7 linked regions of the Homo sapiens genome follow. The protein of the gene in region 2 interacts with the protein of the main gene of each other region in a pairwise test. Each region holds a gene or a part of one and is shown on either strand. Other genes may lie near its edges. The genes, in order: VSNL1, HUNK, ZNF793, KDM6A, MTMR10, AGAP3 and GEN1.

Region 1 (4,067 bases), on a different chromosome or scaffold from region 2:
ATCTTCTATAGACCTTGTAGTGCTTGCCTATAGAGCCCAGAACCCAGATTTATTCATCCAGAAATACATACGTAACTTCTCTGCTTTAAAATAGCACATGGTTTGTTTTTGGTTGTATTTGGGGCTTTGCAGTTCTTCCTTGTTAATTATCAGAACTACCTGCTGTTTGTGACTGGCCTAGGCTTATGTCCAAGGGGACTGAGGCCACCACCTACTGATTCCCCATGGCCTTCCCTCCTTGTGGTCTATGCTTCCCTTTCCTCCTTGTGTCCATTCTCTGCCTCCCACACACCCCTGGTGACAGTTGGCTCTGTGAAGAAACCTCTTTATGTCTCTCAAAAATAAGCCCAGTCATGTTCTATTTTTAATGAGTTTTAAATGTCTGTTCTGCAAAAGAAAAGTCCCTGCAAAAAGAAGTTAGAAACTGGAACCTCACCCAGGGAGGGGATAAGTGTGGGCCCAGGACGAGGGCTGGTGGCAGGAGAAACCAGGTCTGGGCACCCTCCCTCTGGCCCTACTGGGCAGCGATGAAGCCAGATTCTCATATCTAGAGGAACATTGAAGTTCGTGTAGCACCACCTGTGTGGGGAGAGAAACTGCTGTCTGCCTCAGTCCTGTTCCTGGGGGGAGTGAGCTGAGATGCTGCAACACTAGCATCAGGTGGTGCTTGTTGACCGATTCCAAGCCCCATCAACTGAAAGCCACATGTCACCAGCCTCACCCACAGGAAACAATGAGATGCCTGTACCTGAGCACCTGCTGTGAGAAAGCCTCCCCTAATGCCTGCCCTTGCCCTTGACAGTCAGGCCAAACTGCTCTCCAATGGGTGAGGCTCCGACAACGCCCAGGAGCACCTGTGATGCCGTCATTAGGAACCTACCTCGTCGCCCCGATTCCATCCCCTCCCGACACCTGACTGCGCGTGTTCTCCTTTGCAGTTCTTTCCTTATGGAGACGCCTCCAAGTTTGCCCAGCATGCCTTCCGAACCTTCGACAAGAATGGGGACGGCACCATTGACTTCCGAGAGTTCATCTGCGCTCTGTCCATCACCTCCAGGGGCAGCTTTGAGCAGAAGCTGAACTGGGCCTTCAATATGTATGACCTGGATGGTGATGGCAAGATCACCCGAGTGGAGATGCTGGAGATCATCGAGGTGAGGCCCGGGGTGTGGTTGGCGGGTGGTGGGCACAGAAGGAGACCCCACGGCAGCCTCCTAGGTGCAGGCCTTAGTGGCTTCTTCTCTCTCTGCTCGAGCCCTGCCAGCTGCACACCACGCCTGGACTTCTCCTGCTTCTGTCCCCGCTGCAGCACAGTGCTGGGGAGGTCCCAGAACCAAGCCATGGGGCCCGTACTGTCGTGACGGTGGCATTGTCATCTGCCATTCACTCACTACTGGATCTCCCACGAACCTGTCTTACTGTGCACACAGGATGTCATGGGCTGTTTCTCTGGCACTTGGTGTATCTCTGCTCTGCCTCACTCCAGCTGCGCCTAGTGGGGACCCGAGGCTGTCAGGGGCTCCCGGGACATCCTTCCAGGTTCTGGTCATTCCACAGCAAGCAGGCTTTGCCCATTGTGTTTGTGAGTAACCCAGGATTCCTCTGCCACGCCACCCACTGCGTACTGCATTCCCAATGTGAAGGTCTTCTTGGTTTTCTTCTAATGCCCGGTTCCACTTCAGGGCCTTCCACTTCCTCTCTCTCTGCCCAGCATGCCCTCCCCTGGCCTCTGGGGGCTCCTCCCTCACTTTGCTCCCATCTCTGGTCTTATCCCATCTCCCAGAGAGGTCTTCCTTCCTGCATACCTTCCCAAATATGCCCACTCCACCCTCACACCAAAGCAATCTAACCCTTACCAAGAGGGGTTTTGTCCCAACATCTGTCCCTGCCCCAGATTAACTTGTTGAGTGGAATATATGGCAGAATGCAAGCTCTCTGAGGAGGCTCTGCCCTCACGGCTGCATGCCCAGAACCCAGACCCAGCCTGGAGCCTGGCAGGCATGCAATAGCAGATGCATGGTTCGGTAGCTTTCCTTTGATTGACTGTCTTAGCATGGGTTCCCACCCCTGCACCAGCCACTCTGACCAAGGAGAGAAAGGTATCACTTGCTGAAGGTAGAGCCAGGTGCTCCATCCTGGAGCTGGGGGGATGCCCCATCCAGACACCAAGAGCTGAGATCAGGCAGGGTGGATCCCCACAAGAAAATGGGATGATTGCAAGAAACAGAAGCCAAAGCCCCAAGTTCCCCTCAGGACTCTCACTCTCCTCCCAGCCTCAGAGAGAAGTCACCCATCAACTCCCTGCCTGGGAAGCTGGCCTCGTTCACTTGCACACCCTCTCATTCCACATCTTCAGTCTCTTCTTCTCCGTTGGCTTCTCCCCTTCTATCTTCAATGCCCACTCCCTTTCAAATATACCCAGCAAACTAACATCTTAGTTCTTTACTTGTGTTCCCTTCATTCAATTGAATATATATTTTTTCCAGCAGGTTATCAGAAAAGATACAGCACAATAATTCTGAACATGTGGCTTGATTTTCTCATCTTTCTCACTCTTTAATCTTTTGTCCATCTTCCACACTTAACTTGGCTCCCTCCAAGGTCTCTCTATAAGCTCCCTACAGAGTAGGTTTTTCCAAGTTTTTTCTCCTCTTTGACTTCTTGTCATTTCCCCTCATTGGCCACCAAAACCCTTCCTCTCCAAAACTTTTCTCTCTAATCCTTGTCAATGCCCTTCAGCCAAAGTCCCCAAGGACATACCCACACTTACACAAGTTGACTTTATTACTGCTTGCAGTGAGGGAATCTTGGGGCAATTCAGCAGGAGGGTGTTAGAAAGGACTTCTAGGATCTGGACTTTGGGAGGGTGATTTGGGGAGGGTTCGGAGAAGCAGAGGTTTACTGTGGATTGGTTACTGTCAGGGAGTGGGGACACTTCTATGATTAGATACCTAGGAGGAGGGCACACAGACCAATGCAATGCTCTTAACGGGTGAAGAAGCAGTGGTCACTCACCATAGCAGGAAGCAGGGATGCTTGGTGTTTTGTGTCTGTGTTCAGACTTAATGACAGAGTGGTCTTGTTTTTGCCTTGCTCCATCATGGTCACTGGCATTTTGTGACATTGGTTATGTTTGGTGTGAGACCTGACTGTGAGGGCTGGGCCAGCTCCCGGCAGCACCAAGGCCCGGTGGGCAGTCCGGGCCATTTCCTGGCTGTCAGCGGCTGCTTTTCTTTCTCTTAGTTCTTCCACGTTTCTCCCCATCACTTCTAGCTCTTCCTTTCTTCTATTCAGAGCTTTTATGGATTGATTTCTCACCTGATTATGGGTCACATTTTCCTGCTTCGTGACACGTGTAATAATTTTTATTGGTTCCTGGACATTATGAATGTTGCATTAGAGTGTCTGTATTTTGTTGTCTTCATTTATAGAGTGCTGAGATTAGTTTTGACAGGCAGGTAAGTTATATGTAAATTAGCGTGATCTTTTCGAGGCAGTTTTATAATTTTAAGCTTTTAGAGCAGATGGAGAGTAGGTTTTCTGTAGTAAGTTAGCCCAGTGCCCAATTTGTGACCATTTTGGGGTTCTTACTGATTTTCTCATACATTTAGTGAGGTTTCTCTACTCTGGCTGGTGGGAACCAGCCCCATGTGTTGTGATACTTATTCAGGTATTTAAGTGAAAGAGGACATATCAGAGTATAACTAGACAGAGAATATAAATAGAAAAGAGGTTTCCAGAGGACTGAGGTCCTGGGGCAACCTGATGTTTAGAGGTGAGGAACATGAGGCACAATCAGTAAAGGAGATGGAGAAAGAATTGCCAGAAAGGTCAAAGTAAAAAAGGAAAAGTGAGAAGTCCTGGAAGGGAAACACACTGTTTTGTGGGGAAGGAATGGAATGTGCAATCATGTCAAATGCTATTGATAAAAGAAGTAAAAGGAGAAAAGTAATCACTGACAATTGGAATTGGAAACCTGGAGGCCATAGGTGAACCAGCTGAGAATAGTTTCAGAGGAGTTGGTGGCAAAATCCTAAATAGAGCAGCCCAGGAGAATGGGAGAGGAA
Region 2 (4,067 bases):
AAGATACCATGTTTAATACACTCGATTGGCAAAGATCAAAATGAGTACCCTGTTGGCTGACATGTGGAAAAGCAAACACTCCCATACCAGATGGGTGTGGTTATAAGTTGGGAACCCTTATAAATTATAAGGGTTATCAATGTGATTATAAATTGCCAACCTCTATGGCAGGCAATTTGGCAATACTTATCAACAGTTAAAATAGACATACCTTTTGGCCTAAGACTAGGAATTTACCCCTCAGATACACTGAGGGGTCACATTTACAAAGTGACAAATGGTCATGGATATTTACTGAAGTATGGTTTGAGAATAACAAAAAAAAAAAAATTATGTACTCCCTAAATGTCCATCAACAAGGGATGGTTAAGTCAACATGATACTTCCACACAATGACTACTATGCAATAACTAATTAACATAAAGAGTGAGGCAATTCTGTAGTAGTCATGGGGAAGAATGCTCAAGACATATTGCTAAGTGAAAAAGCAAGATAATGAACAGCATGTACAGTTTAAAAATACATCTGCCCTGGTGGGTGGGAGGGATGGATGAAGAGAAGCTGGTTCATGGGTACAAACATACATAGATAGAAGAACTAAATTCTAATGTCTGTTAGGGTGACTATACTTAGTAGCAATACTTTGTATATTTCAAGGTAACTAGAACAGAGGACTTGATATAATACCAACCCGTGGAAATGAATACTTAGGTGATGGACACGCCGATACTCTGGCTTGATCATTACACACTCCATGCATGGAACACTCACATGTACCCCATAAATATGTAAAATATTATGTATCAATAAAGAAGAAAAATCTGCCCCTAACTACGCATTTACAAATATGTATGTGGGTCTCTATGCATATAGGGTATCTCTGGAGGGATACACAAGGACTAGAAGGAGGAGTGACCTCTCACGAGAAGATCCAGGAACTGAAGAGCCCAGATAAGAAGCAGTTACCTCTCACTGCAAACCCTCTCAGAACCTTTGAATTTCAGACCATGTGTCTGTATTACCAATTCCAAAACTTAACCAAATGCATCTTGAAAACACAAAGATGATTAAAAACCAAAAAGAACCCAGTGATTAGAAGTTGCATAGCTAGGGCACAGTGGCCACCGTAAGAGTGCTAAGAGGATGTTAACAGATGGCTCTACCCTGAGTAGTTTTTTTTGTCCATGAGAATGTCCCAAACTGTTACTCTACTCATCAAAAATCCAAATTCCCACAACTCCTTCAACAACTTTTCCCACCACTCACGAGTGATGGGGGAGGGGGGGTCTCTTCCCAGGAAAGTGCCACCGTCTCTGAAGTAGGCATGCTGGCCCACAACTTGGCCCAACACTCAGTTGCCCCAGAGTTCTCAGGAAAAAACCCATAGAGCATACATATAAAGTGAGCTTTCAATCTTGTAAGTACTGAGAAACACAACAGAGCCCTGATGATTCTAACCTAAGAGAAATGTGAGGCCAGAAAATCCCCCAGCGTGTGGCACATAGAATCTGCTAATGAGATGCCACGCCGGCTGCTCCCTCATTGCAGGGAGAGAGACCACAGTCGAGCAGCAAGGTAGGGCAGGCTGAAGAGAAGCTGGTTCATGGGTACAAACATACATAGATAGAAGGACTAAATGCTAATGTTTGCTACGGGGACTATATTTAGCAGCAATAATTTGTATATTTCTTTGTTGTTGTTGTTGTTGTTGTTGCTGCTGCTGTTGTTATGGAGTTTTTGCTCTTGTTACCCAGGCTGGAGTGCAGTGGCACAATCTCGGCTCACTGCAACCTCCACCTCCTTGGTTCAAGCGACTCTCCTGCCTCAGCCTCCCGAGTAGCTGGGATTACAGGAACACACACTTGGCTAATTTTTTTGTATTTTTAGTAGAGACAGGGTTTCACCATGTTGGCCAGGCTGGTCTCAAACTCCTGACCTCAGGTGATCTGCCTCCCTCGGCCTCCCAAAGTGCTGGGATTACACGCGTGAGCCACCACGCCTGGCCATACTTTGTATATTTCAAGGTAACGAGATGAGAGGACTTGATACCAACACATGGAAATGATGACCACTCATATCCAAAATGCGCATGGAAAAGATGCCCACGTTGTCTACGGTCCATATGGTATGGACTCAGATGAAAAGCCCTGGACTCTGACCCTGTCTCTTTCAGTAAACAGCAAATGCTGGGCTGCACCCCCAGATTCCCCGTCAGTGCTGAAGAACTGACTGCCTCAGCTGCAGGCTATCAGCTGTGAGCTCTCCCCAGGAACCGCCCTCAGCAACTGTCCCGTACGAGGCCATGCCCCTTGCCTGGGCAGCCCCCATCAAGGACTGGCCGATGCGGAAATATAAATCCCAGTCCTCTCAACCCAAGTTGGTCAGCTCTGAAGGGCCAGCTCAGCTCCAGCACTCACCACGGCATGGGCAGGGGCTTTGGCTGAGAGCGGTATTGGAGCCCAGCTTCTCCCTCTGCCCAGTGCTGCTTTGCCCCTTCCCTTGCAGAGGTCAGTTCTGAGAGTAATCCCTAAAAGCACATTCATCTCCTTCCCAAGATCCGCTTGCCACAACCCAATACTGACAGTCTAAAAAGGTGCTGGAGCTTGAACTATGCTCCCCCAAAAGATACCTTCAAGTCCCGTTGGTACCTGTGGATATGATCTTCTTTGAAAATAGGGACTTTGTAGATGTCATCGAGTTAAAATGAGGCAACACTGGATTAGGGTAGACCTACATCCCATGACTGGTGTCCTTATAAAGAGACATAGGAAAAGATTAAGAGACAGAAGAGACACTCAGAGGGAGGAACACTGTGTGAAGACAGACGCAGAGACAGAGCGCTGCAGTCATAAGCCAGAAAATGCCAAAGAGTGCTGGCCACCACCGGAAGCTAGTAAGAGGCAAGGAAGGATTCTCCCTGTGGCTGCAGAGGGAGCATGGCCCTGCCAACACCTTGGTTTTGGATCCTAGCCTCCAGAACTGTGACAGAATAAATTTCTGTTGTTGAAGCCACACAGTGTGTGGTAATTTGTTAGAACCATCCTAGCAAACTCATAGAGAATGTCAGAGAGAAGATCTACTCAGGGCACCCTTCTACGTAATCAAGGCAGGCAAGAACACCAGCAAGCTGGCTGTTACCCCCTCCACCAGGGCTGCTGCAGGCATCTAACAAGAATGTGCACGGGAGGGGCACCCTGAAAAAAACCGTAAAACACTGTAGCACTGGGCTGGTGCTGGTGATGGAGGAGAGGGAACAGCTGTCTCGAATTCACAGAGGCATCCCCCTCCTCGGGGACTATTCAGTCCCTGTGTTTCTAGCTCTTTCCTGCTGGTCATCGTACCACCCAGTGGCACCTCCTATCAGAAAGCGTGAAATTCAATTCAGGTCAGTACTTAGACCAGGGCTGAGTAGAGAAAGAAGTTTCACCCATCAGCTAACATAAGGCCTGGGGATTATCTACGGGTTTCAATTAGCCAAGAGAGCAGGTCTCTCCGTTACCATAAATAATCGACAGAGGGAATATATGTCCCAAGGCAAATGATAACCCTGTGCCCAAGCCTCCTTCCCATGGAGAACACCCCAACCTGTCCCTCTCTTCGGGGGCACATGGCTGCCACTCCCCACCCCTTCTGGGCAGATAAACCCTGGGACAGATGATTGCCGCGCTGACCTCCAATAGCTGGCAGCATGCAGAATTCTATAGTCTCACAGACCTGAGTCGGATTGGTATGCACGGGTAGCTATAGCCGTGACTCAACACCTGCAGAGAAAATGTAGGGTTGTACTCCTCTCCGTGGGCACCGTTTCTGCACTGTTGCGCTGACTCAAAGCACCCTTTGAAGTCCGTGGGACCTGTATCAATGAACACTAGGAACCAGGCCCTACGTGCCAATTTCCATCATTCACAAGTACTTCAAAAAGATGAGGCAGGGCAGGAAGTTCAAAAGAATCCGCCTGCAACTGCAGAATGCAATCCTCGAAATTACAGGCACTGCCTTGTCACACAGGGCTCACCAAGCAGGTGCTTTGCAAATGCCTCCTTCTTGCCAAGAAGTCCCTGCCAAGG
Region 3 (4,686 bases), on a different chromosome or scaffold from region 2:
CAAACATGTAGTATCTTACACACTTTCTGAGGGTGAGGAATATAGGAGCTGCTATAGCTGAGTGCTTGTGACTGTGTCTCTCACGCAGTTGCAGTCAAACTATTGGCAGGGGCTGCTGTCATCTCAAGGTTTGACTGGGGCTGGGAGATGTGCTTCCAAGGGTGATACACTTGGTTATAGGAAGGCCCCAGCTACTCCCAGGCTATTGGGTGGAGGGCTTAGTTCCTTGCTACCTGGGCCTCTCCATAGGCTGTCTCGGTATCCTCATGACATGGCAACTAACTTCTCTCAAAGTGGGGGCAGCAGCCTTTAAGACAGAACTCAAGGTGCCATTTATTATATTTAATCTCAGCAGTGACATCTATCACTGCTACTGCATTCTATTAGTCTCACAGTCCAACCCTGGTACAATGTGGGAGGGAACTACATAAGAGTGTGAATAGTAGGAGGTAGGAATCATTGGGAAACATTTTGAGGTCAGTTATTGTATCAGTTGCTAGGATGACCAGTTGGAATTAGGATTTTTTTAAAAAGCCATTTTCATAAGACAAGGCAATCTTTTCTAGAGATGTTCCAATACCTGTGATATGCGGAGCACTGCGCTAGGTGGTATTCAAGGCAGGCCTGTAGTGAATGCTGTTGGACCCAGCCACCACCCCTGAGCAATCATATGCAGACCGCTGGCTTCTTAACTGCAGACACCTACAGACTCAGCCTAAGACTTTCCCACGAGGCAGGCTCGAAGTGCTGGAGCTTTAACACCTCTGGAGTGGCCCTAAAACAATTAGGAAGAGAGATGGTGTAGACATATGTAAGCTTCATCGGCCTGGTGGTTGTGAAAACTTGGAAGTGGTTTCTACACAATCCCCCAGAGGTCCCAAGCTGACTGAGCCCTCATTGATCCAGAGCTAATCTGCTCACCTATGCACTGTATATTCGTTCCCATCGCTCCCGTCTCACTTCTCCATCCCCCACCTACCAAATAAACTGCTTGCACTCATTCTTTCCTCAGGTCGGCTTCTCGGGCAAGCCTCCTTAGGTAAAAACCTTGCTTTCAACATTTCCTTTCCATTATGCGCTAAGAACTCTGATCTCTTCCCGCTGCGGCAGCCCCGCCCTTTCCTTGCGGCTCCGCCCTTTCCGTGAAGTCACGCCCGTCCTTAGGCTGTCTCTGTCTCCCTAAGAGCGAGTCTCTTCGCTGCTCTCTAACTCCTAGAGCTGGCTCAGAAAGAGTTTCACATTGCCATAGGGGAGCTCCTAGGAGAGGCTGCACCCATTGCACGTAAGAAGCGGTAAAAATGTACGCGGCCATCTTACCAGGCTGCCGGAGACAAAGAAAGCTCAGCTTTGATGTCTGGGCGCCACCATGTTGGCCACAGGAGGTTTTGGCATCTGAGATGCTGAGTTAAGAGCAGAGACGACATCTCTGTTTAGGGATCCAGGGACACTTCCTTCTCCTTGTCCTAAAATAGCCTTATCTTTTGGTCTAGCAAAGGGCTTAATCATCCGTTTTACGGCACAGTTTTAAACATGGCCGCCCCAGGTAGGAGTCAAGTGGGCGTCGCCATCATACCTCCAATTACAGCTTTGAGAAACCCAGAATCCTGTTCACTGGAAGGTTGCCGGGTGGCGGCTGACAGCCTCAAAGTCGCAATTGAGTCTGCGCACCGGCCATTCAGGATGGGACGACCTTATACCGCGGTGAGGCGGCGTGGCAGGACGACCAATTTCAGATTCAGGGCGCGGATGCAGCATAAATGGGAAGGCACGGTTTGAGAAACGGTCAAACCTGGGACTAGTGGAGGATAGTGAGCTGCCGACTACGGTGGCCGACTGGGTCAGCTATGGGTGCCCGTGAGGGTCAATGACAAGGGAACTGAAGGGTTAAGAGATTCGGCGTCTGAGCCTCGCGGGGCCTCAGTGGTGGCGGACAGAGGTTTGCGGGAGTCAGTGGCACGGTCTCTGAAGAAGATGGATTGGGAGTGTGTGGGAATCAATAAATGCGAGTTCTGTGAAATGTCTTGATTTTCAGGGTGCATGGGGTCAGTAATAGTGGTCTTCATGGGTCTGGGGTCAGTTGGGATTTTTCAGACACTGGTTTAGAGATCTTTAAGGTTAATGATCGGAGCCCGAGAGGATCAGTGATCGGAGGTTCTAAGTTCTGTGGGCAGTAATAGTTTGGGTACTGGAATTGGTGATTGTGGAAACTTTGGGGTTCAAATGAGGGAGGTCAGTGGTGATGAATGTTTGGAGAAATGTTTTGGGCCATCGGTGATTGAGACTTACTTCATATCATCGGTGGAGGATCGGAGAGTATTAACGATTGGACTTTTGTAGATCAGGGAATGGAGAATAGAGTCAAGTGTGCTTATCTTAAAGGTACGCCTCAATGAGGCTCAGTGATTCGGACTGTCACTTGTGGGTGGGAGTGGGACTGTGAGAATCAACAATTGATCCTCAGTCGTTGGGATATCATTGGCAATCAGTGTGGATTCATGATTGGGGGCTGTGTAATTTCACTGGCAATCAGATCGGATCGGTGTTCTTTGTAGTTACTGACCTGTAGTCTCTCCTGGTCAGATTTGAACATAGGGGAATATCAGTGACTATGAAAACCTCTGAGGGTTGGAGATTGGAGGCCAGTGATTGGGGGCACTATGCGTGTCTGATTAGGAGACTTATAGGGGTTGGTGTTGAGGGTCCTGAAATGTGGAGATTGGGGATGGGAAAATCACAGATTTGAGGCTGCAAGCCTGCATAGCGGGAACACATTTCACTCAGGTGACACTCCCTAGCTGAATAGCAGCCAGTTCCTCTCCACCAAGGCCCATCTGAAAACTCTTTTTTGAACCCACACCCTTTTTATTGTTCTCTACAATAATGAAAATAATTTGAAAGGATCGCGTGCTAAACTTATCTAAAGTAACATGTTACTAAAGACGTGGCTTCTATTCTTGTTAGGGATCTAATGCATATTTTTTCCTAATGTTTCCTTTAAGGCTCTTTCTGGCAAAGGTAATGACATACGCATCTGTGCCAGCATCCCAAGAGTGAGGCTGGTTTCTGGAAATCCATTCTGACTCTGTGACAGCGGGGATGGATGTGACCTTGCCCGTGGTTAGAAAACAAATTTACTGAGTAAGTATCTAAAATGATAATGTAGGCTGTGTGCAGTGGTTCATGCCTGTAATCCCAGCACTTTGGGAGGCTGAGGTGGGTGGATCATTTGAAGTCAGGAATTACTAGCCTGGTCAACATGGTGAAACCCTGCCTCTACTAAAAACACAAAAATTAGCCGGGCGTGGTGGCGGGCGCCTGAGGTCCCAGCTACTCTGGAGGCTGAGGCAGGAGAATCGTTTGAACCCAAGAGGTGGAGATTGCAGTGAAACGAGATTGTACCACTGCACTCCAGCCCGGGTGACAGAATGAGACTCTGTCTCAAGATAAATAAATAAATATAAATAAACAAAATAAAATAAAATGATAATGTAAAAGATTTGGCTGAAAGAGCAAACAGAGTGTTTAGAAAATACTTTTATCTAGGCTCAACTTAAATTATCAAAGGAAGAGAAACTAGATTTGGAATTTATTGTATTCTGAGAAACTTTTTGCCTTGTCCTATATATTTTAGGCATAGCCATTTTTAACCTCCACTAATCAATTCCTTATAAAGTCCTGGCAGAAAAAATTCAAGACAGATAAAGCCACAACCGCCACAAAACAAAATGTAAGCTACTTTTAGAAACTGTTCCTCACTGAAATTAAAATTGAACTAATAGTTATTAAAATGGCTGAGATGGGATTGCAAATAAAATGGAAATAAGATTTGAAAAAATAGATTTAGGGGATATAAGTGCAGTTTTGTTACATGGGTATATTTCACAGTGGGGAAGCCTGGGCTTTTAGTGTAACTATCACTTGAATAATGTACATTGTACCAATCTGATAATTTCTCATCCCTTACCCGCTTCCTACCCTCCCTCCATTCAGAGTCATCTGTGTCTATTATTCTGCTTTCTATATCCATGTGTACACATTATTATCTTATAAGTGAGAACATGCAGTATTTGACTTTCTATTTCTGAGTTAGAAAATAAGATTTTGACCATTAATGAAAAAGTGCAATGTCAAAACAATATTTTAATTTTAAAAAATTATTACGTTTGATCTTTATGTAACCTTCAGACAAAGCACAATGCCTGTAGCATCTTAAGAAATAAAGGCAGCTGGATGCTAAGGCAGGTAACATCTTTCAGAACCCACATAGGTCAAATTTTAGTTTTAAAAGCAGATAGTCCCTGTTTTTCACTTGCACAGAATCAAAGACAGATAGCTGCTTAGCATGGGTGAAATAATAAGCCAGGGTAAGGAGTTTGGGTAATTTTTTCTCCATGTTGATTCCCTTCACCACCTATACTGTGCTCAGTGCCAGGTTTCAGAGCAAATAATTAAAAAGAAATTTTACATAAACTTTTTATTGTGATATATATGCAAAAATGTATATAAATATGTAGCTCAATGAATTGTCACAAGGGAATACCCCTGGGTAATGCACTCAGATCAGAAAACAACATTCTAGCACCGTGCCCTCATGATGCCCCTCCCAGTCACTACTCTGCCAGAGGTTCCCTAGCTTCTAATCTTAGTATTGTCTGTTTTTGATCTCTAATTTAATGGGATATTCAT
Region 4 (4,585 bases), on a different chromosome or scaffold from region 2:
TCAGGCTTTACATTACACACCCCACTGGTATGTTCAGGCTCACAAAGATGCAACCAAGAACTATATGCGGTTGCAAGCACATATTACAGAAGGTTTTATTTTAATGTTAAGGCTGATGAATCTTGTCCTAAGCAGGTAGGACACCTCACAAGCACTGAGTCTGAAGCAGTGAAGATTTTTTTTTCTTTAGTTTAACAAACTGCTTAATCGTTCATCAAATTACCCCATATATCATGAAGGCCCCAAACATAGTGAAGCTTCACTAGTTTTTCATTTTTAAGATGTATTCAAACATCAAGTAATGCACAACTTGCCAAGAATATTTGAAAATGGTTACTTTTTTAAAATTTAAACTCGTTAGTGCATAACTGCAGGGTTTAATATTACAATCCGAAATCCAATGTTAAGCACTATTCGCAGTGAATCTATATGAATATGAGCATTCTAAGACATAAAATCAACTAGCATTTTACACATTCTCAACATAAAACATCAGATTCCATTTATTTTTTCATCACCATAACCAAAAGCAATCGATTTGGCCAAACTTTTCCACGTGAATTATCTTTGCAAGCAATTTTATTAACCCATGTTAGACCAACAATAATCCCTCCAAAACAAAATAATGCTCTTTTAATTTAAATCATGTTTAATCTTTTATAATGACAACTTTGACAGCAGTCAAATATTTTTAAATAAAATACTTTAAATACTCAAATTGGAAAAAAAAAAAAAAACTTTAAGGCAGGAGACCAACAATTACTGACGCTTAAATCTTTCCAGAGCTAGTCACTGTTCATTTTTACAGCAATAATTGTAATGAAGCCAATTAATACCTACGTAGTCAAAGTTTAATTCAAGTTTTCTGTATCGGTCAAAGGGGCCGGGCTTACTGAAAAGCATTATTTCCATTTAGTTTTCTGATTATATGCAATATAACACCTTATAATTACTTTGAAATAAAAACAAATGTGTAATTACAGATAAAAAGGAATTGATGACTCTGCGAAACCAAGCTACAGACAAAAATTCAGAACAACAAAAAAATCAACTTAAGAATAAAATGTTAGACTTATTTCAAACTTGCGTCTCAACTGCAACAATAAAGCTAGGTGTCAAATGCAAAGCTATGATTTCAGCTAGAAAAGAAAATGTCTAACGGATACAACACCCATAGCACACACTCCAACTTTCACGGTCCCAATTACGAAGAAAGTATTCAAATACCATTGCAATCAGATTTTGGTCAGGAAATATAAACTGATGCATACAGATTGAGACTCCAGCCTTTGTTCAATAGCTTACAGATGGATAACTAAATGTGCTACAGGTTGATAAGCATTTACCAGGCTTATGCATGCTGCTTCCAAGCTTATGAAAGGTATAAGAATTCTATATGCAAATAATCTTGGGTAATTTTTTTTAAACACCACTGAGCTACACACTCCGAAGGAAAGGCTTATTCACGGCTACTATTTATTTCCATGTTTACCTCTACACCCTCCCCCTAACCCCCCCCTTCACTTTCTCCTCCCACCCTGTCCCGCCATCTTGGGCCGATAGGAGCAGCCATTACTTAACTAAATGACAGTGCCAACAACTTTCCACACAAATAAAAAAAGACTACACCCCGAATCCTCCCCAGCCTCCCCTGTCAGACACACAGGAAATGAGGCTCCAGGAAGAGAACACGTTTACAAATAACTACGGTATTTCTATGCCAAAAAGACCCAAAAAGTAAACAAGTCACCTAACTTCAGGTAACACACACTGCAATCGAGATACATGTCAACAGCCCAATGCAAACTCTTCACCGACCTAAACTCCGTGAAACTTCCCCCTTCTGGGAGCGGGGACACAAGAAAGCCTAAAACATTTGGTTAGCAGTAGGCATCACGAACAGCCTGCTTGAAGGAAAAGAATTTTTTTAAACCCGTAGAGGCAAGTTAAGTCCGAAATTTGGGAAAATCTGAACACACTCACGATCCCTTGACCCTAAACAGGCACCTCGAAGATCATCGGCCTACCCTCAAAAAGCTGTAAAATAGCAGGCAGTTGTGTCGACCCAGTTGAGCCCGGCCCCAAAGCGATCCCGTCTCTGTTCCTCCAGCTACAAGAGGAAAAGAGCGATTTCGCAAGGGAGCAAGCAGGGTACCCGGGGGTGGGGGGAGAGCAGAGGCAGGAAATAGTTTCCGGAAGCCCCTCGACCATCGTCCGTGGCCACAATGAGCACAGACCCGGCCGCGGGGCCCGGGGCGAGCGCGGCGCCGGCCAGGGAGACGGTGTCCGCGCTCCGACTCGCAGCTGCCTTACCTTGCCCAGTAGGGCCTTCGTCCTGGCGCCATCTTCATGAAATCTCACGAACCCAAAGAGGCGGCTGTGGAGACAGACACAGTTTACTCGTTAACGCTCAGGGAACGCCACCGACCCGTCCCTGCCCGAGCCCGAGGCCCCAGCGGAGGCGGCGCGAAGAGCGCCAAACCGAGGTGCCCGCCCCGCCGCCGCCAGAGACAAGCCGCGCTCGGTCCTCCCGGGAGAGCGGCTACTGCCCGTCCGGAGCCGACCGGGCGAGTGACGGCGGCCCGTACCTGTCCAGTCCGCCGAGCGCCTCCCTCTCCTCGGCTGTCAGGCTGGGGGACGCCTCCTCGCTCTCGCCGCTCGCTTTTCCCGCCGCCATTTTCTTTTCCTCATCACCGAAAGCGGCGGCGGCAGCGGCGGCGGTAGCGAGCGACACTCCGCAGGATTTCATGGAAACGCAGCGAATTCACAACTCCAACGCCGACACCCCCCCTCGGACCGGGGCCCGCAGTGACGCCCCCAATCTGCGCGCGGGACCAGCACACCAACTTTATCGCCGCCTCCTCCTCCGCCGCGGGCGGCGGCGACGAAAAATCCCAACGCGGCGGCGGTGAAGGCGGCGGCGGCGGCGGCAGGGGCTGCGGAGCCCCCGGGTCGGCAGCGGCGGCTTTCGGCTGTAGGGTCACATCGCGGGGTTGGGCAGGGGGCAGCCACAGGCGGGGACGGCGGGAACGGCCGGAGCGCGCGGGGCTGGGGAGCACTGAGGGGATTCGTTGGAGACACAAACTTCCCCGGCACCAGCACAAAGTTGTTGTAATTGTGTCACACAGCGAACCCCACGCCGCCGCCGTGACCCCCCCTCCCCGCCCGGCTGGCGCCACCAATCGGCGCGGCCCGCACGCCTCACGTGACCTTTGTTGACTCACGTCAGCCGTGGCTCCACTTAACTTGCTAGCTGCCCGAGCCCCGCCCACCGAGGCCGCCACCGAGATGGGAGCGGGACGCAGGCCAATTCTAGCCGGTGGTTGGCTGCTGGGCGCGTCTGTCGGGGGAAGGGTTGTCACCGAGAGGGAGCTTCCTGTTAGGTTGTGCTGGTTAAATACACTGGGGCAGAGAATGGAGGGTCCGGGCCGTGTCACCTCGGGAACCGCGGCGGGCTCTGGAGGGGGAGGGGAGTGGTGGGGAAGGGCGAGGTCCGGCACCGCCCGCGGCGGGCGCGAGCGGCGGGCGAAGACGCCAAGGACGGCATTTGCCTGCCCGCGAGCTCTGGGATGTGCCCAGACCGCGGCTCCGGCCGTCCCGCGCGCGCTCCAGGGGTCCCGGGACCCCACAGGGCCTGGTACAGGTCGCGTAGCCGGGAGGCGGCGCACGGCCCTCGACCTCTGCCCTCCGAAGAAGGCTCAGACTTTTGGCACTGCTGGAAATAATGGCCTCCGCGAGGAGGGCGCTCGGGGAGCGGCTGCCGGTCCCGTGCCCCGCGGTCCGGGTGCCGCCCTAGGCCAGACCTGCGCTGGCAGCCCCGATCACCTCACCCGCGCCGAAAGTGAAGGGGGAAGGGCTCCCCTGACCCCCGCCCATACGCCCCAGGCCGGAGGGAATGAAGAGTCGCCCGCGGGGCCTGGCTTGCCGACCATGGCTCCCCACCGCCAAAGGTCTGTCTGTTGGCGGCACTTTGGGGCCAGATTTTCGTGCTGTGTTTACCCTGTGTCTTATCAGTAGTTCATTACAGTCTTACAAGAAAAAGCAATGAGAAATTGTGAAGCGGGATCTGCAGAATGTTGGGTTCTATTGCCATGATTTCAGTGGAGCCTTCTTACAAAAGTAGGGGCTGCTTGTGGACAGACCTGAGAGAAGACATAATTAAATCATCACAGCTGGTGGCCCAAGAAATCCTTTCTATCCCCCAAAACCTGCAGGTTTGTAACCCCTAGACAACAGTAACATTTTGTTGTTCTGTCTCTCAGGTGCAGGGGAAAGGCTTTAGTCTGACTTTTAATCTTTACTATAGGTGAAAAAAAAATAGGCCTTTCGACTACTCTTCTCAAAAGGCAAATTTATTTACTAAGCTGTATGTCTTATAACAGGGATAGGAAAAAATTGATAGACATATAAGGACAAGATTCTGTTTATAAACGGAGTTTTTTATATTTTCAATAGGTTTTCCACCTGTAACCAATAAAAATTATATATTTAAACTTGGATTTCAAAATATGACGAAGACAATTCAGTGCTGACCCAGTAATTCCTACCAGTATTCAGCGGGAAGCTATGGGAATCCCAACTGATT
Region 5 (4,225 bases), on a different chromosome or scaffold from region 2:
AAATACGAAAAATTAGCCAGGTGTGGTGGTGGGCTCCTGTAATCCCAGCTACTTGGGAGACAGAGGCAGGAGAATCGCTTGAACCTGGGAGGCAGAGGTTGCAGTGAGCCGAGATCACGCCACTGCACTCCAGCCCAAGTAAGAGTGAGACTCTGTCTCAAAAAAAAAAAAAAAAAAATTTAAAAAAAATTTTAAAAAATTAAAAAGCAAGCACTGACATTTACAGCTAAGACCATGTTGTTTCTGAGTGTGAAATCATAGTATGCAGAGTGGAGGAATCAAAGCCTAAGAACCAGGCCTGTTCAGAGTAAACGAAGTCAAAGTTCAATAGCTCATAGGCACTCATTCAAGATGAGTACTGTTTCCTCGTCCCTGCATTTTAAATGCTCAGAGTGACTAAGACTAAAACAGAGCACACAGGGAGCAAGGGTTACTTAGTAATTCTACTGTTCACTCTGAGGAAAAGTACAAATGATTAATTAGTACACACTGTTGAGTGAAAAGCACTAACAAAATCAAGGGAAAATATTTATGACTCCCATAGTAAAGTTTAAAAAACACTTTTTAAACTTTCATATGGAACCAAAGTTTGGTGTTTTTAATATTTTGTCCCTATATAATATTTAAAATTTTAAAGTTTCCACATTTGTTCAATTTTTACCTACAAAATTCTAATTATTTTACCGATTTGGCTTTAAGTAATGAGTCAGATTTTGCAATGCTGATAGTAGCCACACAAACTAGTATTTGATTTCAGGTTTTTTTTTTTTTTGAGACGGTGTCTCACTCTGCCGCCCAGGCTGGACTGCAGTGGCAGGATCTCGGCTCACTGCAAGCTCCGCCTCCCGAGTTCATGCCATTCTCCTGCCTCAGCCTCCCGAGTAGCTGGGACTACAGGCGCCCGCCACCATGCCTGGCTAATTTTTTTTTGTATTTTTAGTAGAGATGGGGTTTCACCGTGTTAGCCAGGATGGTCTCGGTCTCTTGACCACGTGATCCACCCGCCTCGGCCTCCCAAAGTGCTGGGATTACAGGCATGAGCCACCGTGCCCGGCCGATTTCAGGTTTAAAACAGGCTTTCCTAAGTATCTGGCTACTTCCCCTAATAATCGCATTAAACAACTGACTTTTCCTAATTATTATACAATTGTTATACAATTCAAAATACCATACCAATATTCTGTATGCTCTAAAACAAACCCCTTTCTACCACCAATCCCTACTTCCATCTCTAAGGTCACCTATAGCAAATTTTGTTCTAAAGCAGTGATTCTCAACTGTGAGATTTTTGTCCCCCAGAGGTAGGGGACAAAAAAAAATTGGCAATGACTGGTGGCATTTTGGTGTGGCAACTAGGTCGCAACTAGGTGGTGGGGGATAAGGGTACTACTACTGGCATCTAGTGGGTGGAGGCCATCTTTGTTGCTATACACAGGACAGCCTGCCCGTCCAACTATGAATTATCTGGCCCCAAATGTCAATTAAGTGTCTCTGCTGGGAAAAGCCTGGTTCTAAACTGAAACAAGCAAATTTGCAAATACAGCTGACAACTTCAAAAAACAATTGCCAAGCAAGTAATTCAAAGTTCACTAAGCTCTGTTATTGGTATAGAGACACACACATAATAAAGGCGTCTTTTTATACTATCAAAATGCATTAAAATGATTAATCATTAATGCAATAAGTGGCAAACACGTCAGCAAAGAGTACTTTTACTACCCAAGCAATTAAACATATACATCTTTTCAAAAAGAAATTCGGGAGACAAAAAAGGAAATGAGGTAATGACATTCTTGACAGTTCCTTTTTCTCCTCTCAGTCACTAGACTTTTAACTGGAGAAAGTTTAATGAGAGAAGGGAAGTTAACCACATGATACTAGTCGGCAGAATAATCTTAAACCAAAATACGTTGCTAAAGTATCTGTTAGAATCCTAACTAATGTTTACCTGGCAAAAGGACTGGCTCCAGTTTTTTAATCTTCGGTTCCGAATTGATCTTATCGTCAGTCTGAAATACATTAGCAAAATAAATCAAAATCTCAATCCCCCCACCCTCCGTAAAATGCTACAGCAAATGTTGTTTTCTAAGTGATGACACATGCGAAAGACACACAGCCCCCCATTTAAATTCTTTCGCATATTAACTGAGCTGTTTTTAAGATCTGCTCATTATCGACTTGGAAGCCTAATAATAAAAAATGTTTAAACTGCCAGTGTCGCTTCCAGGTGTTCACATTTATGACAGACGGGTAACCGCCTCGACCAGTGACCCCAAGCGCTGCAATCATGCTGGCGGTCATACGAGGGAGGGTCGATGGGTTGGAAACTAAAGAAAACCCCAGCTCCCAAGGCTCCCCTGGGCCTCAACACTCCGCAAAACTACGGACGACAGAACTTCGGGCAGAGAATGGCTGCAGAAGAGTTTTACAAGTTTTCGCCGAGCCAGTGGGGGCTCCCGAGAAGGCGCATTTCGCGGCGCCGGGAATCAGGCAGCCGCGCTGCTGTGGGCAGGGAGACGCGCGCAGCCTCCTGGGGTCCTCCAGTTCCCGGGGGTCGGCCTGGAGGCTCCACGGAAGCGCAGAGGAGAGTCGGGCGCTCGCGGGGAGGGGTTGTTTACCTGGGGCGGTGGCAGGAGGTAGGACCTGAAGGTGGGTTTGGGCGGCTTGAGGGAGAACATGGTGCCGCCGCCTTTTCGCCCCGTTCCCGTCGCGGGCCAGTGGCAGCGCCGACGCCTCCGGGCGTAAAGCTCTCAGTGCGGCCGCCCAGGCCCTTTCTGCGGCCAGCCGAGCCGGGCGGACTGACGGGCGGGGATACGGCGCAGCGCCCGCCCGAGCGGGGAGGGGCCGGGCACAGCCAGGCCGACGCGGGCGCCGGGGCCCATCCCCGGAAGGGGCCCGGTGCCCCGCCCCGAGAGACGGCGCGCGCAAGGCCGCGGCCCGCCGCTCCCTGACCGTGTCCCGTGCTAGTGCCGGAACGCAGCGGTGGCGCCAGGTGCCCGCTGGCGGGCCCTCAGCCGGGGCGCCGCGGGGAGCGGAGCCCGACGGCCATCTCAAGAGCGCGGCCTCTGGAGGGTCCTTCTACGGCGGCCCGCAGGGGTCAGGCGGCCCGCGGGGGCCTACGGCGGCCTGCGGGGGCCACGGCGGCAGCGGTGGCTGCCTGGGACGGCGGCGCGGGGCGTCTTCTGGCCGGGCTGCAGTCCTGGGACAGTTCCCTTGACTTACACATGGGCCGACTTCGCCCTCCGGCCTGGGCGAGCATTGTTTTGAAGCTCTCAAGGAGGAGCTCAGGGCAGGGAAAGGTGACTCGGGTCCAGGGGTCAGGCGGTCACCCCGTCTGCGCCCAGGATGCGAGGAACCGGCACTGGGAAAGTGGGCCGGTGCCGCCAAGCACAGGTCACTTCTGAGCTCTTACGGTAATTCTGACTGGAGCAGATTTTGGTGGGAGGGGGCTAGTGGTGTTACATTTTGGTGAATCTATTACTTGAGACTAGGTCCTTCTTATACCTTGAAGAATCAAACCCCAATCCAGCATTTTATGATTAATGCCACAGGGAAGCTTCCATGCAGCCATACCAGTCACAATCACGCTGATGAGTGTTACTCACAGGAACATTTAACAATTTAAATAAAGATTCAAAAAGTTATTCTTTTTCTGAAAATAATTTATCCTGGATTTAGAACCCTACTGATCTTTCAGGTTAACCTGTTTGAATTCCACTCTGCCCAAGAACCGTAACCATAATTGTATTTTTTAGAGTCAGGGTCTCACACCATCACCTGGGCTGAAGTGCAGTGGCATGATCAGGGCTCACTGCTGCCTCCACCTCCTGGGCTCAAGTGATCCACGTGCCTTAGCCTCTCAAGTAGCCGGGACTATGGGCATGAGGCACCGTGCCTGGCCATAATTGTACTTTAAAATGTTAGTTCCATTGGATTAGAAGTGTTAAAATCACTGTCGTGCACACTTTTTAAAAAATTTTTATGAATATGCTGTTATTCCTCTATATTCAACGGATATTTTCTACAAATACTCTTTAAGCAATAATTGGCTTTTTCTTTACACTTAAATGACTCTGTGATTTGGGTTTTTCTGTACAGGTTTTCTTAGGATCTGCAATTCTAATATGTGACCATACAACTGAAAAGTGGAAAAACTCTATTTCCAGATTTATTATTGTCTTAACACTAAATTTTATGGCATTTCCCAGATATCTGGTTGTATTAG
Region 6 (4,067 bases), on a different chromosome or scaffold from region 2:
CACCTAGGATGGGTGGAGGCCTATCTGAGGGGGACAGCACAGGTGGAAAACGACCTTTCAGGACAACTCCACAGGGACCCCCCAGTTCCACAGTAGCGGGCGAGATGCTGCTGCCTTCGGAACGTGGCTCACATGGCTTAGAGCGCCCAGCCTCCGTCCGACCTCCCTACTCAGCCGCTTCCCCGTCCCCCTGCCGAGAGGCTGATGAGCTAACTGCGCGGGGGGCTGATGGGGATGCGGGAGCCACCACCAGCGCCGCCTGGGGACAAAGGGGAGGAGGAGCTGCAGAGGGTGGGCCTCTAGCGCCGGCCCCAGGCAGGGCTGCAGGCAGATGGGGGCTCTGGGGAAAAGGGCTGCACATGGAGGCTGGAGAAGGGACAGTGCCCCTACTCTGCTTCCAAGACAACGTCAGTACTAGCCCCGAAGCAGGGTCTCTCTGACAAGCCCAGGAGGGCCCAGCTGGGCCCCACCCCTTGGCCTGGACACTGTCCCACTGCAGCCTCCCAAGCCAAGAATGCTGCCCAGTTCCCCTCCTCTCTGTCACTGGGGCCCCAGAAAAGGTGGGAAGCAGCAGAGCCACCACTCACCAGGGTGCTGCATGCCTGGGGGCAGGGAAGTGGTGGCCTCACTCCACTGGTCGGCGCTGGAAACGGAGCAGGAGCGCTGGTGCAGCCCCTCAGGGCGCGGGCCAGCCCAGGCCGAGCTGCTGAGGGGGCGCTCAGAGTGCAGGGATGCGCTGCTGGCCGAGTGGGGGGCACCTGGGGGCGGGAAGGGTCAGACTGGGAAGGGAGGCCGGGCAGGGGAGGATTCTCAAAGATACTATCCTAAAAATAGAGCTGCAGAGCAGAGCCTGAGACATTCAGCAGGGCACTGGGTTCATCAGGTGGCGGGCCAGCTTCTGGGAGAGCCAGAGGCTGCGCAGGGACCCTGTGTGCCTTAGGAAGCAGCCTGTCCCCAGATCTTCACGGTCCACAGCTCTGTCCCCTCACTGTGGTCCGGGAGCGGGGCGGGGGGTCTCTGCATCAGAGATCTTCCAACTTGTGGAACGAGCTGGGTGGTGCTGACACCCATCGCCGCAGTGCTCCTTGAGGGGCCCCTCCTGGCTTGGGCCCCTGCACCCTCCATTCTAGTCCACATATGCCATTTGCTTCGCCTCAGCTTTACTGCCATTCTGACGAGAAATAAGTGTATCAAATTCAAGTAATTATGTCTAATTAGTATTAGTAATTATCCTGTTGGGCTGGAGAAAATTAATCTTTCGTTTCCCATCAGGGAAGAATGGCAGAGCCAGGGGGAACCGAAGGCTCTAGGAAAGCCAAGGCTGGGGCAGGCGCGGCGGCCGGCAGTGGAGGGAGGACAGAGCGCCGCACAATTCTCCCACCTCACTCCCTGGCTGAGCCCCTGCTGGAGAGATTCTGGGAACAGCCGTGGGGCCTCAGAGGCCTGTGGTACAAGGCCTGAGTTGGAACTCCGAGAACCTAAGCTTCCTTCCCCTTCTTCAGTCCACCCAACACTGAGACCACAAAGAAATGGCCCCAGGCGGTCTAAGAACACGGGGGCCGAACCTGAGGTGCTTCAACCTTGAAGCGGAGGAGCCCGCCAGGTGCTGGAGGTTAGTGGGAAAGCAGAGAAGGGGCCCGGAGCTGGCCAAAGCTGGAGACAGCAGGCAGAGGCCCAGCCAGGGGAAGGGCAGGCGCCAGGTCTCACACCAGCCCTGCAGGCGGCGGGACTGAGGGGAAGCCTGCGGGGAGACGGCACCAGGCTGCAGCAGCTGGAAGGTAAAGGAATGGCCCAAGGGGCCACAGCTCTGCTGCTGGGAGACGCCCAAAGGCAGGGAGCAAGTTTTATGTTCCTCTTGTATCTGTCACAACACCCCAAAGAGGACCAGACACATAGTAAGTGCTTAGTCACATACGTGCAGCACAGAGGCTACAGGCCGGTCTCCATCTCCAGGCCCCGAAGAAACATGTAGAGGCTGCCTCTTCAGAATCCCACCCACCTCCCGTCCTCTGCCCTCACAGGTCCCGCCTCAGGAAACCTTCCGGGGTGCACACTTGGTCCCTCATTTCTCAGATACCTTGCTTCTCCTCACCCCTGCTTTCATTCCCTTCCAGGTTCCAAATCTTATTCCCCCTCATCCCTAGCCCCATCCAAAGACATCACAGGCCCAACTTCCTCCCCAAGCCCCCGACCCAAAATCCTGAGGGAGGGAAAGTGCTTTCCCTTTTCTTTGTTAATTCTCCCCTCATTACGCCTGCAATCCCACAATCAGTGTGCACTGTAATTGTCGAATTTGATGCTAATGATTAATGAATTAAACATGGAGCCATCAATTAGTCCTCGGAGGATAATTCTGCATAAAGCAGCGGATAATGTAATTACAGTAACAAAGATAATGAGATGTTAACATCGCCCGGTGAGTGAGAGACATGTGTGAGTGTGCACGAGGGTCGGTGTCGGCGTCGGCATGCGGCAGCGGGACGCGGGCTGGGTGGGCACCGTCCGCGAGCTCCTGCGTGTGGGCGCTGTCATTACAGGAGCGAGGGCACGGGGCTGTCTCCTCCATGCCACTGCCGCTCCCAGGTGAGGGATGTCAGGGACAGGAACGGGACAGGACAGCGTCTTCTCGTTTCCCTTGCTCTAGGGAAACAGCCCAGCTGTCCTCTGGCTCCCTGCTGTCAAGGAAAGGGACTCACTTGGGCCTGCTCCTCATTTTTGGAATGATAAGAGAAACCCCAAGCTGACCAAAGGGGCTCCTGGGGGCCGGTGCCAGAGGGCTCCCCGCAGCTCTGACCCGCTCTCCGGGCAGAGCACTGAAGACTGCATGTGACCTGCCATCAGGCCAGTACAACCCCACGGCAGGCTCAAGGTCCCCCACTGGCACAGCCCCATGATGGGTGGTGGCCGGCCTTCTCCTTCTTAGCTTCCTTCCTTCCCTCCATCCACCTCACAGGCTTCCTTTCTGAGCTCAGGGTGGCTTAGAGGAAAGAAGATTGCTCTTCAAGTCAGACACAGTTAGGTTGAACCCTAGGTCTCCCACTTACTGTGGAATTTACAGACAAGTTTGTTAGCTATGCCAAGCCTCTGTTTCCTCATTAAAATGGGGACAATAATCTCTACTTCACAGCTGCTGAGGACCTGGGACCTGATGCAGAGACATCCACTGCATAGGGTACATCTCAGTTGTGTCAGGCCCCTCCCCCTGGCCACTCCCCTGCCTTCGGGCTGGTCCACGGTGTTTCTGCGAGAGTGGGCCCAGCACACCTGGTTCAGGTGCCTTGCCTCCAACAAGGACCACACCTGGAGGCATCATTGCGCCTTCCTTCCCTCTAACCTGGGCTTTCTCAGCGGAGTCCCATCAGCCTTGTGAGTGGGACAATTCTTTATTGTTTGGGGTCTCTCCCATCCATTCCAGGGGACTGGATGTCGTATCCCCAACCACCTGTCCACTAAGTCTGTCACATCCTCCCCTCACTGTGACAAGCACAGGCCCTCTAGGGAGGTGACTCACCCAGCTGCAGACCTGTGCTGCCAAGCGCTGACTGCTGGGACAGGGCACAGGAATGGCACCAGCAGGGCAGCTGTTACTGGGCCCAGGGAACATGAGATCCAATGGTCTAGGACAACACTGGGGATACTGAAGTCTTGGGGGAAAGCAATCGGGAGCCAGGGGCTCTGGAAGCGAGGGAAACGGGTGTGGAAGGACGGACCCTGGAAGAGCATGGGGCCTGGGGGCCCAAAGGAGGAGGAATGAAGCGGCACTAGGGAGTTGCTGGGGACAGGAGGCCTTTCACCTGAGCCAGCACTGTCAGTTGAAAAGGCAAGAACGCAACAGCTCTTCACTGGAGTTTCTTGCCTCCAGATCCTGTCTAAATTCAGTCCTCTCTGAGCAGAGACCCGCCTCTCACTCAGGCCTGAGAATATGCACCAGGTTGACCTCAGACAGCTCCGTCCCCTTCCACCTCCCCTATCTCCATATGCCAACCTTGGCTGAGATGCCGGCCATGCACCCAGAGGCATGGCCCCCACCCATCGCCTGCCTCGGATCCAGATGCAGAGATGGGCCT
Region 7 (4,067 bases), on a different chromosome or scaffold from region 2:
TTCTGGGCTTCAGGCAGCATTTGGTTAGTTTTTTATTATCTACCCCAGCCTCTAATCTCCTGATAGGAACAGAGAAATTCCACCCTAGCTACTGGGTTTCAAGAAATAAGCCTGACTCCATCAACATCTTGCACTTTTGGTCCCCATTTTTTTTTTTTTCTCTGAAGCGATTTACCTCCTGGATGATACGGCTGCTTCTAGATTTAAGGCTCTGCAAAACCAGTTTTAGTTCCCACATTCCCTTAACACGTTTGTTCCTTTTCTGGTCCACTGAAATAGTTGTCTTATAAAGCCTGGCTATATCCTTTTATGCTTGTTTCTTTTTATAATCTATTATTACTATGTGTTTGAAGTAGAAAAGTATGATAAAGCATGACTTACTATGTTGTTCTGATTATAAGCCCTGAATAAGCTTTTAATATTCCAGGAGGCCTTTCCTCCACCTTTACAAAAACGAGCTTAAAGATATTAGGAATATTTTAATTATAAAATACTCAAGTAAAAACACCACCTTCACCATACAGTTCTTTACATTACCGAATTGGCTGTAGTTGATTAGAGTTTCTGCTACCAAGCTTTCTTTCTATCATGTCATAATGGGTCAAAAGTACCAGCAATTTCTCACATGCATAGTGATTGGGCCACTCCATTTTTTCAAGAGTAAATCTCTATAAATATAATAAAAATAAAACAAGATTTTGTTATCTCTTGGAGACAAATAGCACTCCTAGGTGATATTAATATTTTTTCCTTTAGAATTAACGTAAGTTAAAGTAGTATCAATGAGAATATTCTAGAAACAATGAGCCTCCTAAGGAAGAATCATTATTGCATAATGATTAAGAGTGAAGGCTCTCGGTTTGAACGCCAGGATGATATTTCTTAGATGTTGGGTAACTTACTTAAACTCTCTTAGCCTCAGTTTTACCATCTGTAATGTGAAAATATTACAACCCACTTCACAGATTACAAAGATTGAGATTACATGCAATGCATTAAACATAACAGCAAATTTAAATGTCTAACAAATGTTGGCTGTCATTATTAATGTGGCTGTCGTTCTTAATGTGGCTGTCATTACTTACAGCTGGTACTTGTAAGTACCCAGTTGTTGCAATTTATTGAGCCACTCCGTGTCCCTAGCCACTATATTAGGAGTTAATATAAATAATCTCATTTAATCCTCATGGTGACTTTATGAGATAAGTAATATTATTTCTGTTTTGAGAATAACACACATCCAGGGTCACACAGTAGGTGGAATACGGTCCAAATTTAAATTTAGGTCATTAATTTCAGATATCAATGTTTTTGTAAATGATACTACCTTCCATAATTATATACTTGATCTTAACATTCTCTTGTTATTAAACCCTCTTCCCCCAAAATATCCATGGATGCAATATATCCACATATGCTAATTAAGGCATCTTCTAAAACAGCATAACTATACTTTGTCTTATAGTGTGCAAAGATGGCCACTGTATGGCAAATGAGAGAGTAGAAATAAATGCTGAAAAAATATAAGAGCTGCCTGTTTTAATTTTAAACCTCCTCTAAGACCAATCAGAGTGAATATCTGTTCCTATCTTTCCAGCATATAACTTCATACAGTAAAGAAGAATTTATTTTCAGATACCTGAAACAATAACAAATCAGGTCTTTGGTACCTGATAACCTTCACCAATTTATCCTTGTTTAAAAGGAATTCTTGAATAACCTAGCAAGAAAAAAGAAAATAGAAACTGAGATTTAAACTTTTAAGAAAGTTTCTAAAATTAATAGAGTTGAATTACTGGATATTACCTCATGGAATGGGAATCCCTCACAACAGCAAGCTTTCCTGAAAAAAAAATTATATACATGTTATTACTATAATCAGACAATTTTAGACTCTGAAATCATCTCAGCCAATCTCCTCCCATTTAATAAGAAATGTGAATTTACAGTATCCCAAACAGTCAAGCTTCCCTTTGAATAACTATTACATTACTATCTCCTAGGTTAGCTAAATTTTTGAACAGAAATGAAAAAAAAATTTAGTTAAACATGTGACTAATCTAGATATGGGGAAAGATTATATGGAAATAATTCAACCAAAGGTATGTGTATAGGTCATGCCAGGAAAAATCATGAGTTTTTAAAAAAACTTACTTCTTAATATTGTTCTCTACTTCACTGAGTTGCCTATCATGTTCTGTACGGTGCCACTCACAAGGACAGCAGTATTCATAGTCATGTGGCTCACAATATTTATCACTTTTACATAATCTGCATCCATTACGTTCATGATCCTTAGGTGAACCTTTATGGAGACCCAAAAAAAGTATAATATTTTTTGCCTTTTATAATTACTTTCTACATACATTCTTTTTGCCAGTATCTAAATTTTCCAAAATTAATATTGCCTAGCACACTACCTAGCATATAGAAAGGTTTCAATACATTTAGGATGAATAGAGTAATAGACACCATAGTAATTCTTGGGCTCAAGTAGATCTTGAGCTATTACTATCACATGACACTTTAGAAAAAATTATTCTTCTATCTGAAAGTGTTAATTAGACACTTGAAATTATACATTTACAATAATCAACAACAGAAAACTTTCTGGTTTAGGTGGAAGCTACATGCATAAAAAGTAGGATGTAATTACTAGCAAAAAAGATTATTTACTTAATAGAATAGCTCTAATAGAATAGTTTCTTTAACGAGTGTATTAAAAGAATATAGCAGTTAATTACCTCTGCTAGTGTCTAGCTCTCAGTTACAGTTATTTTTAAACTATCCTTGGAACATGAACAAATGATGACTGTGGCACGGGTGTGGAAATTTAATTCCCTTTAAAAGCAAAGTGTGATTACTTTCAACATTGTCTTGAGAATATGTAAGAGCACATATACTTGATATGACCTAAAATTGTCATTTATAAGTTATCAAAAAACTATACAATAGCATCTTATTTATAAAAACATTGATTTTCTTCCATGATTTTATCTATAATTTAATAATGTTAATAAAAATATATTAAGACAACTAGATATAGCAGAATTTCTTTTAAAAGATGAGTTAACATGATATCCTAATCTCTTTTGGGAATGAAAGGCCTTTCTGATCCAGTACGTGTTCCGTAGTGTCTTTTTTTTTTTTAAACCAAGACTAATGAAGAAGATCCAAGCTATTTTCAAGAATAGTGAACATGTATTAGAAATTAGTTTTAAGTCACTGTCTTCACACACAAAATGCATTACAGGACAATGAAGAATCATTTAAGTAGATAAATATAAATCACCAATATATTAACAAATGGTTTCAGTTCCATTTTCCCTAAGACTTATTAGTATATATTTTTTTCTTAAAATGGATTTCTATATTGAAAACATAGTTTTAAGATCTAAGTAATTTGGTATCATAGTTTGAAACTGTACTTATATTTATCATCTACATCACATTATTGGTTTCAATAAACATTTACTGAGTGACTACTATGTGTATATAACAAAACTGACTGCAAGGAATTCCTAATCTAGTGGAGAAGACAATGTAAAACCCTTCAAAGTATTATTAATATTGGCATGTAAAAAGTACTATGTGAACAAGAATTAAAACATGGGTATGAGATACTAATAACCATTCCCTATGTCTCCTTACCTGGATGGGAACATACGGAACAATGAGCCAGTTTTTTAGTGACTAGCAGTTGTGGACTAGAGTTACAAGATGTTTCATTCCACCGATTAAACCTTTAATAGAAAGTGGTTTTTAAAAAAAGGAAAAAAAATGAGGTCACAAAAACGGTATGTTCTCAAATATCAGGCTGATCTATTCCCTTTCACCTACCTAATTATTTTCCCTTTGGTGGCTGATAAAGTTGCTGGCCTAGTGTGGGAAAACCCTCAGTCACAAGCTTTAAATGTGGCCCCAAGGCCCAAGGACAGCAGAACTGCAAGACAGGAGAGAGAGTATATGTGTGTGTGTATCTATATATCGGTATCTCTATTAAAAAAAATTGTATATATATATATGTATGTATATATATATCCAATCAGTCTTTTTTTTTTGAAGAA

The links.
Region 1: the proteins of HUNK (region 2) and VSNL1 interact in a two-hybrid assay, tested with the Homo sapiens proteins (one large-scale study listed by BioGRID and IntAct).
Region 3: the proteins of HUNK (region 2) and ZNF793 interact in a two-hybrid assay, tested with the Homo sapiens proteins (one large-scale study listed by BioGRID and IntAct).
Region 4: the proteins of HUNK (region 2) and KDM6A interact in a two-hybrid assay, tested with the Homo sapiens proteins (one large-scale study listed by BioGRID and IntAct).
Region 5: the proteins of HUNK (region 2) and MTMR10 interact in a two-hybrid assay, tested with the Homo sapiens proteins (one large-scale study listed by BioGRID and IntAct).
Region 6: the proteins of HUNK (region 2) and AGAP3 interact in a two-hybrid assay, tested with the Homo sapiens proteins (one large-scale study listed by BioGRID and IntAct).
Region 7: the proteins of HUNK (region 2) and GEN1 interact in a two-hybrid assay, tested with the Homo sapiens proteins (one large-scale study listed by BioGRID and IntAct).

The regions. Positions count from the first base shown.
Region 1 is NC_000002.12:17,648,472-17,652,538, forward strand, and holds part of VSNL1 (visinin-like protein 1), read left to right. Parts: exon of another isoform or gene 1-938; coding exon 939-1,154; intron 1,155-1,309; coding exon of another isoform or gene 1,310-1,539; intron 1,540-4,067.
Region 2 is NC_000021.9:31,879,283-31,883,349, reverse strand, and holds part of HUNK (hormonally up-regulated neu tumor-associated kinase), read right to left. Parts: intron 1-4,067.
Region 3 is NC_000019.10:37,505,266-37,509,951, forward strand, and holds the start of ZNF793 (zinc finger protein 793), read left to right. Parts: upstream 1-1,673; 5' UTR 1,674-1,701; exon of another isoform or gene 1,702-2,042; intron 2,043-2,999; 5' UTR 3,000-3,138; intron 3,139-4,686. UniProt on the Homo sapiens protein: May be involved in transcriptional regulation.
Region 4 is NC_000023.11:44,871,716-44,876,300, reverse strand, and holds the start of KDM6A (lysine-specific demethylase 6A), read right to left. Parts: upstream 3,114-4,585; 5' UTR 2,750-3,113; coding exon 2,589-2,749; intron 2,378-2,588; coding exon 2,314-2,377; intron 2,126-2,313; exon of another isoform or gene 2,028-2,125; intron 1-2,027. UniProt on the Homo sapiens protein: Histone demethylase that specifically demethylates 'Lys-27' of histone H3, thereby playing a central role in histone code. Demethylates trimethylated and dimethylated but not monomethylated H3 'Lys-27'.
Region 5 is NC_000015.10:30,988,829-30,993,053, forward strand, and holds the start of MTMR10 (myotubularin-related protein 10), read right to left. Parts: upstream 2,801-4,225; 5' UTR 2,679-2,800; coding exon 2,619-2,678; intron 2,010-2,618; coding exon 1,949-2,009; intron 1-1,948.
Region 6 is NC_000007.14:151,134,834-151,138,900, reverse strand, and holds part of AGAP3 (arf-GAP with GTPase, ANK repeat and PH domain-containing protein 3), read right to left. Parts: intron 1,172-4,067; coding exon of another isoform or gene 1,161-1,171; exon of another isoform or gene 804-1,160; intron 759-803; coding exon 588-758; intron 1-587. UniProt on the Homo sapiens protein: GTPase-activating protein for the ADP ribosylation factor family. GTPase which may be involved in the degradation of expanded polyglutamine proteins through the ubiquitin-proteasome pathway.
Region 7 is NC_000002.12:17,770,872-17,774,938, reverse strand, and holds part of GEN1 (flap endonuclease GEN homolog 1), read right to left. Parts: intron 3,944-4,067; exon of another isoform or gene 3,841-3,943; intron 3,744-3,840; coding exon 3,652-3,743; intron 3,645-3,651; exon of another isoform or gene 2,745-3,644; intron 2,306-2,744; coding exon 2,155-2,305; intron 1,844-2,154; coding exon 1,807-1,843; intron 1,721-1,806; coding exon 1,640-1,720; intron 669-1,639; coding exon 538-668; intron 1-537. UniProt on the Homo sapiens protein: Endonuclease which resolves Holliday junctions (HJs) by the introduction of symmetrically related cuts across the junction point, to produce nicked duplex products in which the nicks can be readily ligated.